Linked DNA regions of Homo sapiens: all the other regions are reported to be linked to region 3. The links are microRNA targets in miRTarBase. Many come from high-throughput screens and were not tested one by one. Region 3 holds a microRNA gene; each other region holds the end of a gene's coding sequence. Distances are from middle to middle.

What was found. Region 3 holds the annotated microRNA hsa-miR-3612 (AGGAGGCAUCUUGAGAAAUGGA, at 1,873-1,894, shown strand). A microRNA usually pairs through its seed, bases 2 to 8, with sites in the 3' UTR of a target mRNA and lowers its output. Matches are read on the target gene's strand: a 7mer-m8 pairs with bases 2 to 8, a 7mer-A1 pairs with bases 2 to 7 and ends in A, and an 8mer does both.
Region 1: the mRNA of UBR1 is a reported target of hsa-miR-3612. The part of its 3' UTR that is shown has no 7-base or 8-base seed match.
Region 2: miRTarBase lists ZNF805 as a target of hsa-miR-3612. The part of its 3' UTR that is shown has no 7-base or 8-base seed match.
Region 4: miRTarBase lists LENG8 as a target of hsa-miR-3612. Seed matches in the 3' UTR shown: 7mer-m8 at 1,525-1,531.
Region 5: the mRNA of B4GALNT1 is a reported target of hsa-miR-3612. Seed matches in the 3' UTR shown: 7mer-m8 at 492-498, 7mer-m8 at 1,472-1,478 and 7mer-m8 at 2,166-2,172.
Region 6: miRTarBase lists MCUR1 as a target of hsa-miR-3612. Seed matches in the 3' UTR shown: 7mer-m8 at 1,709-1,715.

What each region holds. Positions count from the first base shown.
Region 1 is chr15:42,942,629-42,945,739 of GRCh38, forward strand. It overlaps UBR1 (ubiquitin protein ligase E3 component n-recognin 1), which reads right to left. Exons shown (of 47, transcript NM_174916.3): 47 at 269-2,842. The coding sequence ends at 2,701. Among named protein-coding and RNA genes, the nearest start is that of TTBK2, 23 kb to the left of the region's middle.
Region 2 is chr19:57,254,481-57,257,591 of GRCh38, forward strand. It overlaps ZNF805 (zinc finger protein 805), which reads left to right. Exons shown (of 4, transcript NM_001023563.4): 4 at 1-3,111. The coding sequence ends at 223. Among named protein-coding and RNA genes, the nearest start is that of ZNF805, 15 kb to the left of the region's middle.
Region 3 is chr12:128,292,233-128,295,343 of GRCh38, forward strand. MIR3612 (microRNA 3612) reads left to right here and starts at 1,860; the gene lies at 1,860-1,946. All of the region lies in intron 1 of TMEM132C (transmembrane protein 132C), which reads left to right.
Region 4 is chr19:54,460,379-54,463,489 of GRCh38, forward strand. LENG8 (leukocyte receptor cluster member 8) reads left to right here. Exons shown (of 16, transcript NM_052925.4): 16 at 388-1,638. The coding sequence ends at 550. LENG9 (leukocyte receptor cluster member 9) reads right to left here. Exons shown (of 1, transcript NM_001301782.2): 1 at 1,354-3,111. The coding sequence ends at 1,712. Among named protein-coding and RNA genes, the nearest start is that of LENG9, 1.8 kb to the right of the region's middle.
Region 5 is chr12:57,624,143-57,627,198 of GRCh38, reverse strand. B4GALNT1 (beta-1,4-N-acetyl-galactosaminyltransferase 1) reads left to right here. Exons shown (of 11, transcript NM_001478.5): 11 at 238-3,056. The coding sequence ends at 455. It also overlaps the pseudogene SLC26A10P. Among named protein-coding and RNA genes, the nearest start is that of B4GALNT1, 7.5 kb to the left of the region's middle.
Region 6 is chr6:13,787,931-13,791,041 of GRCh38, reverse strand. It overlaps MCUR1 (mitochondrial calcium uniporter regulator 1), which reads left to right. Exons shown (of 9, transcript NM_001031713.4): 9 at 178-3,111. The coding sequence ends at 233. Among named protein-coding and RNA genes, the nearest start is that of MCUR1, 25 kb to the left of the region's middle. RefSeq lists a silencer at 1,721-1,889 and an enhancer at 2,558-3,111.

The DNA.
Region 1 (3,111 bases), not on the chromosome of region 3:
AAGCTATGTTTTATAATTTGCATGATGTATTAGTAAAGCACTGCATATAGAATATAAAATATGTGTTATGTGTTTATATTCTATTTGGTATGCATGCTAAAAACTATTTATTGATGGAGTATATGGCTAAAAAGTTTGGAGACCCATGTATACTAAACACCTATGTCTTTTAAAACATTTGCCTCGGCTGACAAAGGTTTCAACTGGAGAGTCTTCCTAGCAGATTTTTATACTTCAAACCCAAATCCCCAAACATGAGAAGTCCCTATTTTTCTTTTTAAATATACACATATATTTTATTTTAAAAAGCACAAGAACATTATACAAGTTTTAAATTTACATTTTTGCAATAAAAGTTATCAATATATGCATTATTTGTATAACTTCATCATGGATGGAATTTGAATCAGTGGTATAAACATGTTGCAGTCACTAAATATAGATCATCATCACAGTGAACCAAAATGCATAGTTGTTATGAAATGACAAATGACCACTAAAAGGTGAACTCACAGCCCATACACCAATATAATAAATTAATTATACAGATATATTTTTCTTCACCATATCATTAAAATTCTCACTAGCCCCTTACCAAACATTAGAAAAACACAGTTCTGGAGCCATCCTGTTGAACCAGTGCCTTCACATACTACACTAAAGAAAATAAAGTGACTCAGTTGCTTGTTTGTAAGTAAACTTCATAAGCATAATTGTTTGCAATGATTAAGGTAAATCACTAGGACATTTGAACATAATGAGAAATCCCTGGGGCTTGGGGCAGCACTGAGACATACGCTCATCTACAGTGCAAAAATCTGAATCAATCTCAATCAGTGGAACGCAATATGAAATGGGTTCTTTGGCAGTAAAGGTCTGGCTGGCCATTGCCAGACAGTCCCTCTGTCCTCTTGAGAGCCTAACTCCAGAATTTATTAAGTTAATATAAAAAGGACTAAAAATAAAGTCAGTTTATCTTTGCTAAATTGGGGCCCATCTATTAGGGTAGAAGTCAGTATCTTCTGTTTCCTATTCTAGCCCAGATTTCCCAGTCAAACAATCCACTCAATACAATTATATAAGAAACAAACACACATGTTCAAATACTTTCATCATTCTGGCAAATCTGACAAACTGAATACTGAATTTCCTGATCCTTACCTGTTATTGTTACAAATTGTTCACTAGACATGTATCTATTTATCCAGATACCTTCTGAATTGTAATTATTCAAGTAGAAAATCATGATTGTGATTCTGACGCCTGCTCATGCCAATCCCTTACTGCAAAATCCACTTTTCTTTACATAAAAGTACCAAAAAAATCTAGCCCCAAATGTGCATCACTAATCACTTAGCAAATATATTTTACTTGCTTGCCTTTGCTGAGCAAAAAGAAGGTAGGAAAACATTTACACACATATGTGAGACACTAATAGCCAAGGGCAAAATAAGATACAGTCTTTGAATGCATCTTTCAAGGTTCTAACATTACCCCAGAAACAACGTAAGTTAAAATGGAAGGTTTCCATTTATCTTCTGCTGTTTTATATCACAATCTCTTGATACAAAAAACAAAAGCCAGGAACCAAGAAGTCTATGCACAAATTCAGGAGAGCTCTATTATTTATAAACAAGATGGCTCAACCACAGCATGTTATAACAGGACACAGACTATTGATCACATGGCTTTTTTGGTGGTTTGTACTAGTCATAAAACCAGAGTTTATGAAAAGGTTGCACACAGACAACATCAAGGATTTGTCTTTTACAAAGATATAGAAGACTGCGGAATTGGTTTAAATCTGATTGTTCTAATTTACAGTTGTCATGATCCACTCATTGCGAGAATTTTCTCATCTTCATTCTACAGTTTTTACATCAGAATTACAAGAGGTTTCTGAGAGTCAAACAGGATGGTGCCACAATCTCCTTGCAGAATGAGATTTGCCTTTGGAAAATGTCAAGTATTATTTCAAAACTCAACAAAGCTACTGGTAGTCAGAGGTGAGAACTGCAAGCTCTTTGTACCGTCAGGAATGAATAACAAATACATTACCCTAACTTTTCTTGAGGCCTACAGTGAGAAAAAAGCTTTTCCATATTGGCAGAAATCATCCTCTGTCCACATAGAGATTGAGTTTAATTTGTGGTGATAGCAGCAGGTGGCACATTAGGGGTATTTCCTTAAAAGAGAAATAATAAAAAATTTATTTTTGGAATCTTTCCCAAGTATATTGCATGGTTTCTGCAATTCTTCTTTAACTGCAAGGAAGACTATCACAGATTATTAGAATTTTGTCAGTGATCCAATGTCAGTTGAACTAAACTTGGGGGGAAAACACCAAATACAAAATTGCAGAAGAGTTAACCAACATATAAAATGTCTACAACTGTTTGACGTGACTTCATCTACCAAGTGGATGAAATAAAATGAAATGAGACAAATTATGAAGGGGAATAAATTCCTGGAAATACTAGCACATAAAACAGATTGATCTATGTCCTTTTTTCCTGTGAAGCATATGTTTGCTAATTGAAAGCAATACTCCATTAAGAAATATTTTATTGATGTAAGTGAACCTGGACATGGAGCAAAAGACCCTCCAATACTTTCCCAGCCCTCAGAAAGTTTTCCATAATTTTGAATCAGCCTTTACTACTGTCGTCATTTGTGATTGTCTTGAGGCAGAGTTGGAGCTCACAGTAACTGCCAGTTGAATCCAAATAACATCTGATTAGTCTCTTGGCTCCTAGCAATCTCTTCTATAATGCAGTGTTGTTGCCAGACCAAATGGAGCTTCCGATACCGCTCACGAGATAAATGAAGGGGGTTGCCCCTCCTTTAGGGAAAAAAGAAAAAACAACATGTAAGTTTGAATCTAGTAACTGCCACATCTTTATTGTCTAAATTAGTATGCACTCTTGAGATGTTCCTGGAGCCGGGAGGACTCACCAGCACAGGGCTTAAAAAGGGATATTTTCCCTTCACCATTGATCACTAAGAACTTGACAGGCTACTTAGCTAATAAAGCAGAAATGTACTCCTTGACCATTCATAAAATAGGTCAGGTATATTATGGCATTATGGGACCTCACTTAAATGGTCACT
Region 2 (3,111 bases), not on the chromosome of region 3:
CACTCAGCATCAAAGGATGCATACTGGGAGAAATCCTATCAGTGTAACAGATGTGGGAAGACCTTTTACAAGTGGGCAGACCTCAGTCAACATCCAAGAACTTTTATTGGGGAAAAACTTTTTGAATGTCACCACTGAGGAAAATCTTTTGCAAGAGGAAGCATCTTACATGGCATCTGATCGTACATACCAAAGAGAAACCCCACAAGTGTCTTCACTGTGAGAAAACCTTCTGTTGCCAAATGTCATTTGTCACCTAAGGAGTCATATTAGAAAATCACGCAGCTTAGAGCCTTATTCTCCATCCGAATTCATCCTGGAAAAACACCCAGTGGTTATTACGCACTTGGGAAAACCTTTAGCTCCATCTTTCTCATTAGTTTACAGTGCAATGTTATCTCAGGAATTTTTATAAACAGAAAGAGGTGACATAGAAAAGAAAATGAAATGCAGACACTGCTTTTATACTGTTGTCTTGTATGTACATTTCTGTCCTGTGTCAGGAAAGTTAGTAAGGGAAGGTCTGGAAACTTACTCAATGTCTTTGTTCTACAACATTGTCTCTTCTTAAGAAGCATTGTTTTTATGAGAAATAATGAAGCCTTGAGTTATGAAATACTTTTATATTTAAGGATTAAAAGAAACATGAATGCGCACATTTTATTGTACCACTTAATACTGTTTAGGTCTTTGATTTTTTAAAAAAATTCTTTTTTAATGGGTTTTAAACACTAACACTGAGAATTTTTCTTGATTCCCATCTGTTGGTTTACTTGATTGCTATAGCTGTATGGTAAATCTCAAAATTAGGTAATGTGATTTCTTTTTTCTTACTATTTTTATTTAAAATTCATTTAGCATTCCTAGTTTGACTTTCCATATACACTTTAGGATTGGTTTTTCTGTTTTTCAAATATTCTTGCTTGGATTTTGATAGAAATTGAGTTAAATCTATAGATCAATGTGTTGGAAATTGGCATCTTAGTCTTCCAATTCATGAACATAGCCTATCTTTTCATTATTTAAATTTTCTTTGATATATTTCATTACTGTTTTATAGTTTACACAGTATAACTCCTGCACATTTAAAATAAGAATTATAGCTGCATAGTTTTTTGAGTGATTGTAAATGGCATTGATATTTAAAGTTTCAATATTCACATGATGTTGGCTAGTATACAGAAACATTATTTTTTCAATCTTATTTTGCTGTCTTGCAACCTTCCTAAACTCATTATTTCTTGCCATTTCTTTTGGGAGAATCCTTAGGATTTTAAATATAGAAATGTCATTTGCAATTTGGGACAGTTTTATTTCTTGCTTCCCATCTGTATACCTTTTATTTGCTTTTCTCATGTTATTGTACTAGGTAGGATTTCCAGTGTGATGTTGAATACGAATAGTGACAAGTTATCCATGCCTTGTTCCTGATATTAGGGGGAAATGTTCAGTTTCTCATTATTATGATGTTGAAAGTTGCTTCCAAAGAGTTTCTCTATCGAGTTTAGAAAGTTTCCCTCTATTCCTAATTTGCTGGGATTTTTTTGGTTATTATTAATAAGTGTTGAATTTTGTCATATGCTTTTTCTCCACCAATTGATTTAATTATGTGATGTTACTTCTATAGTCAGTTGATATGATGTGTTACCTTGATTGAGTTTCAAGTATTGAACCAGCCTCACATCTTTGTGATAAGCCCTACTTGATCATGGAGTATAATTTTGTTTGTGTACTATGCTACAGTATTTCATTTGCTAGTATTTTGTTGAGGAAGCTTTCCTCTGATTTCATGAGTGATAATCTGTAGTTTTCTTTCTTCAACTGTTACTGTTTGGTTTTGATGTCTAGATGATAACTAACCTCCTAACATGAATTGGAAGGAATTCTCTTCTGTTTTTTTGGAAGATCATGTGTAGAATTGGTGTTATTTGTTCCTTTAATGTTTGGTAGCTTTCTCCAGTGAAGAAGTGGGACCTGGAGATTTTCCTTTTGAATGCTTTTTAATTATGTATTTATTTTATTTAATAGGTATAGAACTATTCAGAGTATTTCATATTGGATGAATTTTTATAGATTTTCTTAAGGAAGTGTTCATTTTATGTAAATGTTCTAATTTGTAGCATTCTTTGAAATATTTCCTTTTATCCTCTTGATGGCAGCAGGATCTGTACTTATGTTCCTTGTTGTATTCTTGATATTGGAAATGTATCACTTATTATTGTCAGTCTTTGTAGACATATGTCAATTTCATTGATCATTTCAAAGAAATAGCACTTTATATCACTGATTTTTCTCCAGTCTCTGTTCTTAATTTCACTGATATCTGCTCTGATGTGTATTGTATCCTTTCTCCTACTTGCTCTGGTTGTATTTGACTCAGTGGTTTCCTGACGTGGATGTTTAGGTTATTGATTTGAGGCTTTTTTTCTTTTTTAATATAAGCTTTAAGTTCTATACATTTTTCTTACACTGCTGTTAGTTTCATCCCACAAGTCTTAATATGCTTTTGATTATCTTACTCAGTTCTAAGATTGCCTGATTCCTTTTGAGACATCTTCTCTAACCCAGGAATTATTTAGAAGTATATTGTTTAATAGTGTTTGGAGTATTCCCTGCTATTTGTTATTGATTTCTAATTTGTTTTGCATTTGATGTTACTGTTGAAATTTGTTGACTTTTTTTCCTTATGACCCAGGATATAGGCTGTCTTGTTTTACATAGCTGCTTGAAAAGAATGTGTGTTCTCGGTCATTTGGTGGAGTTTCTGTAAAAGTTTGTATGATCCTGTTAGTTGGTGGTGTTATTTAGGTCTCCTGTATCCTTGCTGATTTTCTGTCTAGTATTTCTATCAATTGCCAAGAGAAGGATGTTGAAGTCCTGAGCTATAATTGTGGAATTACCTATTCCTCCTTTAAGTTCTATCAGTTTTTGCTCCACATAATTTAAAGCTCTGTTGTTTGGTATATACACATGTAGGTTTGCTTAGTATTCTTGGTGTATTGACCCTTTTATAATTAAGTAATGTCCCTTTTTGTTCCTGTTAATACTCTTATCAATTTTTATCTGATATTTGTGTGGTCAGTCTTACGTTTTGGTTAATGCTTGCATGAT
Region 3 (3,111 bases):
TCTTGCAGTCAAAAGAATCGTGGTCAAACAGAATGAAAGGCAAAACTTAGAGGAAAGCCTTGGAAACAAAGCCGGCCTCCCTGAGATTCCTGCTGTGTACAAGGGAGACAGGCCCACACTTCCCCACCTGAACCTGTTTTTGACAATCCCTGCCCAACTTCCTCACCCAGCAGTTGTAAGAAATGGGTTTGTCAATGGTTTTTTCTAACTTGTTCCAGTAGAATGTAAGCTCCTCGTGGGCATAGATTTTGTCTCTGTTGCCAGTACTGAAACCCTGGTACCTAGATGAGTGCTGGGCACACAGCAGGTACTTTGTAAATATCTATTAAGTGTACTTAGTACCTAGGTACCCTAGTACCTAGATGAGGTATTCATAAGTGTCTGTTAAGTGTACTTAGTACCTAGGTACCTAAGTTCCTAGATGAGGTATTCATAAGTGTCTGTTAAGTGTACTTAGTACCTAGGTACCTAAATTCCTAGATGAGGTACTTCATAAGTGTACTTAGTACCTAGGTACCCTAGTACCTAGATGAGGCACTTCATAAGTGTCTGTTAAGTGTACAATAAGAACTGTGGATCATGACACAGTGGAATTAACTTGATAGACTGTTGCTGTCAGCAGTTTTCTTTCATAAACAGAATAGCATAGAAATTCTATTCCTAATAGAGCACATTTCACATGGTAGGTCTGTGTTTTCTGTGTGTTGGTGTAGGTATGTGTATGTGTGTGTGTGTATATGCAAGCACGAGCACCAACTTGTGTTGTAAAATGTGATTCTTACAGTAGACCTTGATTTTCAAAAAATTTGAAAGCCGGACAGCAAGATAATAGTTCAGCTTTTTGTGAACGGTAAGGAGTGTGCAAATCTGAACCTGTAGTGTCTCCTGGATTGCTGTCAGTGAGGACAGAGGATCCTCTTTAAAAACTGGGTCCAAACTCCCTCTGGTCTCATTTTGCACCTCTCCACAGTATAAACTCTCCTTTCCAACCATTCCAAATAACTTAATTCCCTAATCTCAGGGGGCCGTTTCATTGCAGAAATTGCTGCTTGTTCACAAACTTAGTAAGGTACTTAAAAAAGATTTTGTCATGGTTAATAAAAGTCACAGGGTAAATTGGTCTTATTTCTTCTTTTTAGTGCAAAATGTAATCCCTTCACCCTGATTGTTTTGCTTAGTTGTACACACCACCCATCGGGAGGCCAGAAAACTTGTATTTATTTCTAGAGCTACCTCCTTACAGAATTTCAAAGAACCTCGGGGCACTTGAGAATTGGTGTCCAGACAGGATGAATCATTTCTTCTTCAATCAGGATTTTTTATTTTATTTTATTTTGCTGGGGGATAAAGATAAAGATGATTGAACTTGTTTTATTTAGGGGAAAAACAGCCTCTCTTTGAACTCTTGATCTCCACTTCTCAGGAGTGGAGCCCATTTGTAAACTCTCAGGTCTCTCATTGCCTTCTTTGTCTCCCAACCTCCTAAGGTCGAGAGTGATTCTTTATGGCAAAGAGTGAGCATTCTGGAGACTGCACAGCCTCCTCTGAACAAACTGGAGCATATATTTCCCGCATCGTCTCTGTCACCTCCCTGGGTTTTATTTTAATTGCCATGCTTTTCAAAAGCACAATTCCTATTAAATTATTCATGGTGGTATAATGTTTATGTGATCAGAGTAATTATTATAATTACGCATTGTGAATTTTCATAATTAATGACCTCACTCGGATTTCATTTGGTGCAGAATATTTCCGAAGGGGAATCAGGTGGTTGTGTCTGCTGGGGGAATCAGAATGGAATAAAATGGTGACCTATCTTGGGTTTTGCAGAGCAGTAGAAACTTCAGTCATTCACTTTGGGGACTGGGGATGAGGAGGCATCTTGAGAAATGGAAGGAATGGGATCTACTTCCAGTTCACTAGAGGCGTCCTGACACCCCTAGCTCAGCATCTTCCTCTGTGAACCGCCCATGGGAAGGTGTCCAAAGGTGTCCTAGTAGAACAAGCCTAGCAGACCAACAGGAGCAAGGAGACCAGACACGCGTCTCACTTTTGGGGCTTTTGAATGAGACTGGGGCTTACCAAATCTGCAGAAACCAGCCAACAATGCTCAACAGCAGCAAAACCACACTTCAGTGACTCACACAGCAAGGTGGCCCTAACAGGACTCAGGCTTCAGCTGACTTCCTCTCCCTCTCTAATTCTGGAAAGAGTAGAAAATGCAAGCCATTGGAGAAATGGCTGGTGGCACTCTGAGCATGGGAAGAAATTTGATATTTTATGATTGGCACCTGTCTTAGTCTGTTCTAGTTGCTCTAACAAAATACCAGAGACTGGGAAGCATCTAAACAACAGGAATTTGTTTCTTGCAGTTCCAGAGCCCAGAGATCCAAGATCAGGACACCAGCAGATTCACTATCTGGTGAGAGCCGGCTTCCTGGTTCATAGACAGGGCTTCTCCCTATGTCCTCTCACAGTGGAGGGGAGAGGAATCTCCCTAGACCCTTTTATAAGGGCCCTAATCCCATTCATGAGGCTCCACCCCCGTGACCTCATCACCTCCCAAAGGTACCACCTCCTAAGACCTCCATTCTGAAGAGGAGGATTTCAACACATGAATTTTCAAGGAACAAAGACGTTTAGAACACAGCCATTTTGTAGTCAGATTTCAAATATTTTAATGCCTCCATTTTCCTCATCTTTGACTTGTATCTGAGGAACCAATGCTTGGTGTGAGCCCTAAATAAATAAATAATAGATAGATAGATAGGTAGATAGATAAGAAGTTCAAGCTTCTTTGTCCCCCAGCAAAAAAAAAAAATTAAAAAATTGAGAAAGAAATGATTTATCCTGTTTCATCCTGTTTTGTATACAAATAGATGCCAGTACTCAAGTGCCCCAAGGTTCTTTGAAATTCTGTATGGAGCTAGCTCTAGAAATAAATTTATATTATGTTTGAGACAGGGTCTTGCTCTGTTGCCCAGGCTGGAGTGCAGTGGCACAATCACAACTCACCGCAGCCTCGAACTCCTGGCCTCAAGCAGTCCTCCTGCCTCAGTCTCCCAAAGTTATGGGATTACAAGTGTGAGTCAACACACCCAGTCCCAAAAT
Region 4 (3,111 bases), not on the chromosome of region 3:
AGGGGAGGCAGCGAGGGCTGGGTCCCCACGGTGGCCCTGGCAGCCCCGCCATCCCCATCCCCTGCCACGTGCTGCTCCCTCCATCTGGTCCCTGCCCCTCAGCCAGCGGAGGAGCCCGCTGGGCCCTTCCCTGCCCGTCCCCGCTCCTCCCTGGCCCCCGCACAGGTAAGTGAGGGTGAGGGGGGCACAGGGGACTGGGGTCACTAACCCCCCCCGGGCCCCCCCCGAGCCCCTGAGGTGGGGAGGCTGGGAGGCGGGTGGGGAGCCAGCAGGCACTGTGCTGAGGAAATCCTGTGGGCACCCGAATGGGGGGGCCTCCCCGCTCGTGGGGCCCTCCCCTGCCCTCCCGCCCGCCCGCCTCATCACCTTCTCCTCTTGTCTCCATAGCTTCCGCCCTGCGCTGCCAGTCTCCTACCTGCAGGCCGAGCTGGCCTTCGAGGGCGAGGCCGCCTGCCGGGCCTTCCTAGAGCCCCTGGGCCTGGCCTACACGGGCCCGGACAACTCCAGCATCGACTGCCGCCTCAGCCTGGCGCAGCTGTCAGCCTTCTGAGCACCCAGCGAGGAGGGGCGGGGGCAGGGGCTGCAGCCCCCAGCGCTGCCTTTGCGGATTCTGTTTTTGAGCCGTGGACTTGGGTTGTAAATTTATTTGTGGGGAGTGCGCTCCAGGAAGAGCCACCATCCCTGCCCCCGTTTTCCCACCGGGGAGTCTGTACAGAGATTTTTCTACGTTTTTATTTTTTGCCTCAGAGGGATGGGATTGGGGAGGAGGGGATGGGCAGCGGAGGGTTGGGGGCATGGTCTGCAGGCTCATCTGTGTCCGCCTTTCACTCCACTAATGCTGTCTCAGTGTTTTCTCTCTCTCTCTTTCGAGCTTGCACTCCGGTACCCGACCCGGCGCCCTGGCCCATCCCATGCCGGGGGGCCAGTGGAAAGAAGACAGGCCGTCCAGCCCGTGCCCGCCTGCGGCGGGGGCACCCAGCAAGCCCGCCCACCGCCCGCTGCCTCACCTGCTTCGCCACAGACTCTTGTTCCCAGCCCCTTGGGGCCTCCGTGTTTGGGGTGGGGGAGCTGCTTAGAGACTGTGCCCGTCCTCGGCCCCCCACCCTGAAGTGCCAGCACCACCAGCACCAGATCCTCCGCCGCCACACCGCACTGAGGACACGCCGGCCGGGCCGCCTCGTCTCAAGTTGTATAAAGTTGTCTCCGTGTCCCCTCCTCCCTCTGCCCCCAGTGTTTCTTCTGATTTTTTTTTCCCCTTTCCCTCCCTCCCTCTCCGCATTCTTCCCTTGGTTCAGCACAGGTAAAACGGTTCCCCTCCCTCCCTGCCTTCATGGATCACCAGCTCACGTCATGTTGCCTTCTCTTTTCTTTGTGTGTGTGTTTATTTAAGTTATTTTTCTTCCTCCTCTCCCTTTTCTTTTTGGCCCTCCCTCCCTCCCTCTTCTGCCATGTAACTGGAGGATGTGCTATGAGTTTGCAAACAGCTGGACTGTCAGGCTGCTTTTTTTCCAGATGTTCCTCCTCTGCCTCCCCTTCCCCTCCTCTCCCCTCCTTTTCCTTCCTTCCTTCCTTTCCTTGGAGCACTGAGCACCATTTGGAAGCTTGAGAGAAACCAAAATTAAAGAGAGAAAGAGAGAGCGTGCACGCTCCTGCTTTGTCTTTCCTGTGTGGGCTGTTTGCATCCATTGTCTCCTCCAGAGGTCTGGGGGTGTCACTCCAGGGGGATCTCAGCCAGGGGCTGGAAAGGCCCCCCTGTCCTCCCTATACGGCACAGCCAGAGTGTCTGCAGGGGCTGGCACCCCACTTCCTGGCTGAGGGTGAACTCCAGCTTGGGGAGGTGGACCTGGGAACCATGGGGCACCTTGGCCACGGTGAGGTGGGGGTGCAGCTGCCCTGGAGACTGTAGTGTACTCAGCCCCTCGGCTTCCAGCCTCTGGCTCAGCACTTGTGCCATGCTTTCCAGTGTGGGAGAGGGTGGGGCACACAGCACATGCGGGCCCAGGAGGACCAGCTTTCTAAAGCTCAGCCGAGGGGGTGCATTTAGCCCCGGGGCCAAGAGGGCCCGTCTCAGAGCTCCAATGGCAGCGGCCTCCTCCCCAGCGCCTGCCAGTCGCAGCAGGGCCAGGGTCAGGTGTAGGTTCTGAGAGGGCACTAGGAAGTTGGCGCAGTGTGGGGCCACGTGGACCAGGTATTCCTGGGCCTTGGTCACTTCTGCTTGTAGCCCAGGCTCGGTCACCATGAGGGCCACAAAATGTGTGGGGCGCGGTTGGCAAGGGGCTGCAACACTAAGGCGGGCCCTTTTGTCCTCGGGCCAGGCCGCAGGACCCCACTCGGCTTCTGTCGTCTCAGCGGAGCCCCCCGGGACTCCCAGGGCCTGTGCTTCCTTGCCCCCCAGCAATGTGGTCCTGGTGGCTGCTGTTGGCTTCAGTGCCTCAGTCACTCCGGCGAGGCGTCCTCTTGGGGCCAGTGTTCCCAAATCAGCAGCTGTGCCCAGCGCCCTCTCCTGGGCCGCCTCCAGCTCTCCGGGTTCCTCCACGCCTGGTTCCTGGTGCCCTGTGCAGAGCGGCCTTGTGCTCCCTCGCTTGGGGGCAGCCTGGGCCTCCTGACCTGTCCCCGCCAGTGTCCACTCGGCACCCTCTGCCCCGTGGGCGCCCTCGGTGTTCGGTGCGTCCAGGATGGTGGGCCCGCGTCCCGCCGCCGAGCCAGAGCCAAAGACGAGGTCGGTGCGCGAGGCGCGGTCCCACACAAGGCGGCCACGGAAGCGGAAGAAGCGCACGCGGTGCTGGGGCACTGCCAGCACGCCCGGCCCGAGCGCCGCCAGCGGCTGGTCCCAGCAAAAGGCGCTGAAGGGCTCCTCGCGCACACCCAGAAAGCGGTCGACGTAGCCCACCGAGAAGTCGGCGGGGTCGAGGCGCGGGTCCCAGCGGATGCGCTGGATGACGTCCGCGGCTGTGCGCAGCGGCGGCTTCTTGGCCCCGGCCTCCGGCTGCGCCTCGCGGCCAGGCGGCGCCGGCGCCCCAGGGTGGGGCTGGCGGCAGCGGGCGCCGAAGCGGCAGCGGCCTTCCAGGAAGAAGCGGCAGGCCGGCGGGGGCGCGGGTTCCGTGGCGGGGG
Region 5 (3,056 bases), 71 Mb from region 3:
CGTTTATTTAACCTCTGGGAGTAGGGGTAGGTTTTTCGATTTTCAAAGCACAAGTATATTGACTCCATTTACACAAGAGTAAGACTGAGACCCAGGGAGTTGATTTACATGCTCAGGGTCCTTAGAAACAAGCCTTTGCACACACACTTTCCACACCCTAAATTTGAGAGTTCTCCCTTACCAGTCGGCCTTCTGCACCCTCAGGATCCCTCACTGTGTACTCCCCTCCACCCCCAGAATTCTTCTTGGATGGGCTTGGTTCCCTTCGGGTTGGCTCCTGCTCCGACGTCGTGGTGGATCATGCATCCAAACTGAAGCTGCCTTGGACATCAAGGGATGCCGGAGCAGAGACTTACGCCCGGTACCGTTACCCAGGATCACTGGACGAGAGCCAGATGGCCAAACACCGGCTGCTCTTCTTCAAACACCGGCTGCAGTGCATGACCTCCCAGTGATGGCCCGCTGGGGATTTCTGACTGTCAGGCTGGGCCTGCCTCCTTGTCCCTGCCAGGAATTTCCAACAAACCCCACCACCCTGTGAGCACTCTACTGGCTGTCCCTGAGCCTCTAGTTCCTCACTCTTCCTTTTCAGAACCTGATGCCCAGTAGGGGTTGTCCTGGTGACACCCCTCCTTTTTCCAGTGCCCAGAGGCCTGGTGGAGCCATAACCTCTCCCACAGCCAGTGCCAAGTCCTCCCCCTGCCCATTCTCATGGGGCAGGAAATGGGGGGATCACTTTCCAAGTGCCAAAGAGCCCAGAGGGACTCTAAGAACCTAAGGTGGAAACACTGTCCTCTCATCTTGGGACCGAGGGGGTGGGGAAGTTCCCCAACACATAATCCCAAGACTGTGCCCCTCATCTGCATCTTCAGATCCAGTACTCTGTGTACCTGCTCCAGCCCCACCCCCACAGAGAGAACTTGTGGCTCTGGGGCTGGGGTGAGGGCTGGTGGTTGGTGAAAGCCATTCTTAGTTGTGTCTCTGCAATGCTGTGGGCACAAAAGAAGGGGCACCAGAGTCCCTGTGCAAACACCTAGACTCACTTCATGGATTCCAAAGCTCTCAGCTTCATTTTATTAGTTACGTTAGGTAAGGGGGTTCAAGGGTCATGGTCCTCATCACACACATGTCATCAGGGCCCTCTGCACTCCACATGATGAGGTCAGACCCACACGGTGCAAATCTTTGGGTCAGTGAGCTCCTGGAGAAGAGAGGAGACATGTCAGGAATAGATTAGGCACCCCTCTTCCTTAATGAAATGTGGCAGTCCTCTCAGGGGTACCCCACCTACTTAGGGATCTGAGTTCTTCAGTTCCTCACCCATAGCTCAGCCCGGGCTCCCTGATTTGGTCTTCAATCTACTATTCATTCCGTCCCCACCCTTTTCTTCTTGATCTTCCTCAGACCCTTTCCCAAACCCCTCTCCCTGGGTCTCCAGCCACTTACCCCTGCCTCACTTGCCGCAGCCCAGTGCCTCCTGGCTCCCGCTCCTGGTGCTACTGCCCCTTAACAGGCTCCCCAGGGCATAAGCAGCTGCATCCTGCACACTCACAAACAGCTGATCTGGAGTCACCCTGTCCAGGAGTCCTACCCGGGTCAGTGTCCCCTGCACCAAGGCTATGTGGGGAGGGTGTCAGACTCTGAGACCCTAAGTCCACACCGGGTCCTTTTCCCTACCGCAGGTGTCCAGTCATTGCCCAGGCACTGGGCCCCGCTCTTCTCCACACATCTCACCATTACACTGAGCCAGGAGGAGGCGGATCCTAGCATCTCGACATCGGCTGGCCAGCTGCAGGGATGGGGCAAAGGGGTTAAGTCCCAGATCAGAGGGTATGAGTGAGATGCTAAGGGGTTTCTCCTCAACCTACCCTCTCCCTCACCTGCACCACTTCTCTGGCCCCAGCAGCATCTGCAAAGGTGACACCACTGAAGTCTAGGACCACCACCCTGACAGGCTCAGCAACTAGAATGGGAGAAGACAGGAGTACCCAGGTGTCACCATGCAACATGCCCAAATCTTCCTTCTTGTCACCCCATCTCACCTGCAACCATTGGGCCATCTGGCTTTGAAGTCTCCTATAAGTAAAGAAGGGCAGTCACCACTCCCGAAACACAGCATGAACATGCACCCCTTGAGCACAAGGATCCCCCTCAGAACACCCACCTGCCTCCCACTCCCTGAGGATCCACATCCCTCCTAAACCAAGCTCCTTCACCTTTTCTCCTTCTCCGAGCCCCAGGTGCCACTCCAGGTTGCAGCGAAACTGCCCACGGGTCCCAAAGTACAGTGGTGTTGGATAGCTCAGGATGCAGAGCCCCGGGACCTGGAGGAGCTAAGAGGTCAAAGGATCAGAGAAATGTCTGGGGCTAATCTTCCCTTCCTTCTTTGGCTGCAGCCCACCCACCCTGGGGCTTCCTCTGAGTGGTCTGTAGAGCTCTGTCCCCTCAGCCTGTCCAAGTGCCAGGCACTACACCCTAGGGAAGAAGGTGGGGCCAGATTTCCAGCTTAGCCTGGCCTGGCTGGAGAGTCACCCCAAGCACCTCATTCTCTTCCCCTGCCCCGACCTCAACTCCACTCATCTCTATGCCCACCTCCGGGTGCGGCAGACCACAGTCATCATGGAGAAGACCACACCCACAGCCAGGCCCAAATCCACACTCAGGGTCACTACTGCCACCCAGGTGACCATCCACACAGCCTGCAGGATAGGGATAGGGGTGGATTGCCCAAAAGAAAAGCCAGGCCATCACTGCTGGGTAAAGAGATCCAGGGCAGTGACTACCAAGGCAAGTGATGGGGAGAGATGATCCAGGAAGAAGTGGAAAGCATGACAGAAGGAAACAACAGGGTTGATTCAATGGGACACACACCAAATGTAATGACCCGCACCAGTTGGGAAGTTACAAATATTCAGGCCAAAGGGGTTCAAACCCCATCCTTTCCCTTGCCTGTGAGTAAAGCATACTAGGAGTTATGTTTGCTGGGGGAGTGGGTGGGTTGCAGAACTTAAGACCAGGACAATTAGGTTTGGTTCAGGGCAGAGGCTGGGGATGCT
Region 6 (3,111 bases), not on the chromosome of region 3:
ATAAAATAAAGGGTGTGGGATTTGTTTTTTCAGTAGGCAGGCGTTTCACGGAATATGGGACATCAGTGAGCAATCTAAGTTTCTAGGTTTTCTTTTTTAGGTTTTCTTAAAAAAAGATGTTCCCTCAAGTAACTCTTAATAGAACTAATAGTACTCTCAATTGTTTTTTTCTTACAGGGTCTATATTTACGTGCCTAACAGTAGCTCTGGGATTTTATCGCCTGTGGATCTAATAAAGTGTCTATTTAAAGTGATTTCTACTGTTTTGCCTTAAGAATACCAGATTGTTGGCTGGGTGCGGTGGCTCACACCTGTAATTCCAGCACTTTGGGAGGCTGAGGCAGGTGGATTACCTGAGGTCAGGAGTTCGAGACCAGCCTGGCCAACACGGTGAAACCCCGTCTCTACTAAAAAATTAAAACATTAGGCGGGCGTGGTGGCGGGCGCCTGTAGTCCCAGCTACTCGGGAGGCTAAGGTGTGAACCTGGGAGGCGGAGCTTGTAGTGAGCCGAGATCACGTCACTGCACTCCAGCCTGGGCAACAGAGCGAGACTCCGTCTCAAAAAAAAAAAAAAAACCGGAATACCAGATTGTTGTCCTTTTGTTTTCTTGTTACACATTTGAGCCCAGATTTTGACTTAATGTGTATTATTTATTTTTATGAAAATTGTGGACACATAACCAAGATAAAGAAGTCAGGTATTCCATAGCCATTCCTTATCTCCTTTCTGCTTAGTTGACTTTCTAGCTGAGTGGTGCACAGTGCATGGAAGATTCCACTTAGCCGGACCAGGAAGCTTGGTCTCATCTGTGGTGCACACCAACAGCAAACATTGATGTAATTCTCTACAACTTAATCTTTGGCACATAGAGGATTTGGGGGTCTCCATGTTCAGGGCACAATGGCTTTAATAAGTGCTGGAAAATCACTGAAGCTAAACCAAGAGCACCAGATCCTCTTTACCTAAATAACCAGTCTTTAACATGAGCTAGTCCCTGTACCATAGTATTGTTTCAGCTGTAGTTGGTTGTCATGTTAATAAGACAGCTGCACGTCTACCTTCTTTTCTTTTGATTTCCATTGTCTTGGTAAGTTATTGTTAGGGTTATTTTTAATGTGCCTTCCAGCCAGAAAAATCAGCTGTCTAAAGAAGCATTGCAATTGTAATGGGGACTCTTACCTCTTAGAATGCAAGATTTTCCCTCCTCCCTCCCTCTTCTCCATCTCTTTCCCTCATGATTTGAGAACTGTAATAATCCTCCACTGGTGGCATTACCTACCTAGAAAACCTGCTGATTCTTAGCATGGAACTTTGCTTCAGTTTGCAGGACAAAGTCTGCTTCCTTCCGGTCTTCATTTACTTTTTATACAAGGGATGCAGTCAGCTCTCCATGTATAAGATACCTAGATGATGGATACATATTTCATAAATGAAATTTATGTCATTAATGAATATCCCCTTGCCCACAACCAGCTCAGGCTTTCAAAATTCGAGAATGGTCATGCCACACAGCATTCTAATCTAGATGGATTAATTCTGTTGTTCAAAACATTCTCATACCTGCCTTTATATTGAAAACAAATTCTAGATACAACTGGGGTTATTCTGGAAAAGCACATTCTCACCTTTTTTTTTTTTTTGAGACGGAGTCTCGCACTGTCGCAGGGCTGGAGTGCATTGTCGTGATCTCTGCTCACTGCAACCTCTGCCTCCTGGGTTCAAGCGATTCTCCTGCCTCAGTCTCCTGAGTAGCTGGGATTACAGGTGCCCACCACCACGCCCAGCTAATTTTTGTATTTTTAGTAGAGATGAGGTTTCACCATGTTGGCCAGGCTGGTCTCTAACTCCTGACCTCGTGATTCACCCGCCTTGGTCTCCCAAAGTAGTGGGATTACAGGCGTGAGCCGCTGCGCCTGGCCCATTCTCATCTTATTCAAATTACTGGCACATGGGCAAGAGAGACAATGACATGGATAGAAGCTTTTCTGCCTTTCTCTGCACACACATACAGTGAAGGAACCACAGGCAGATTTTTTGATCAGTTTGGTGAATACATTGCTCGTTGTCACTGTTCCAACCACATTGGTAAAAAAAATAGTTACCTTTTGTCCTTTGGATGTCATGTCTAAACTTTGGAAAATATAAGTCATTGCCCTTTTAGAGAATGTTTGTGTAGTCCAAAGATTGTGAGCTCCATATAGTATGAAAATCAAGTACTTTTGCATGAGCAATAGCAGTTTCAAAGTGAAATATTATAATTTAATCTTTTTCAAGTAGATCAAAAATTCTTAACTGATTAATAAAATATTTTATCAATATATCATCCCCCTTTCAGAGAGAAGTCCCCAGAAGAGACAGCACACTTAGCAATTGCCCTCATTATTAAAGGCCTAGGTGAGTGGCATAAAGGGCCATATGCGATTATGTTTCAAGGTAAACATTACCTAACCTTGTGTGGGTTAAAAACAGTGAAGTGTCCTTGTATCCTGATAAAATTTTTTTTTAAATAACATGGTGGGTTGACATTTTTGCATCTGCTATAAGTTTTCTCACATGTCGTTCTTCCTGGTGAGAGCGGGCTGCATCATTCTGGCACTTAATTTGGGTGTTCGATTTTGCTATAGAGTTCTTTGCAGTACAGCATAGCCTCTTCTTGGCCTTGGGAACAGTGAACTCTTCTTTTGATGGTGTGGATTGCATGCATATCTGGAGAGAGGAGGGCTCAGGACTGTGTTCACTTTATTTGGTCAGATGTATTTTATTTGAAAACCATTTGAGCCCAAAATACAAGTGTACCCTTCCCACTTCTGGCTCAAGCACCCGTGAGCCGACTAGACGTAATATTAAAACTTACTGATGCTGGGTGCGGTGGCTCATGCCTATAATCCCAGCACTTTGGGAGGCCAAGGCAGGCAGATCACCTGAGGTCAGGAGTTGGAGACCAGACTGGCCAACATGACGAAATGCTCTCGCTACTAAAAATAGAAAAATTAGCCAGGCGTGGTGGCACACCCCTGTAATCCTAGCTACTCGGGAGGCTGAGACAGGAAAATTGCATGAACCTGGGAGGCAGAGGTTGCAGTGAGCAGAGATTACACCACTGCAACGA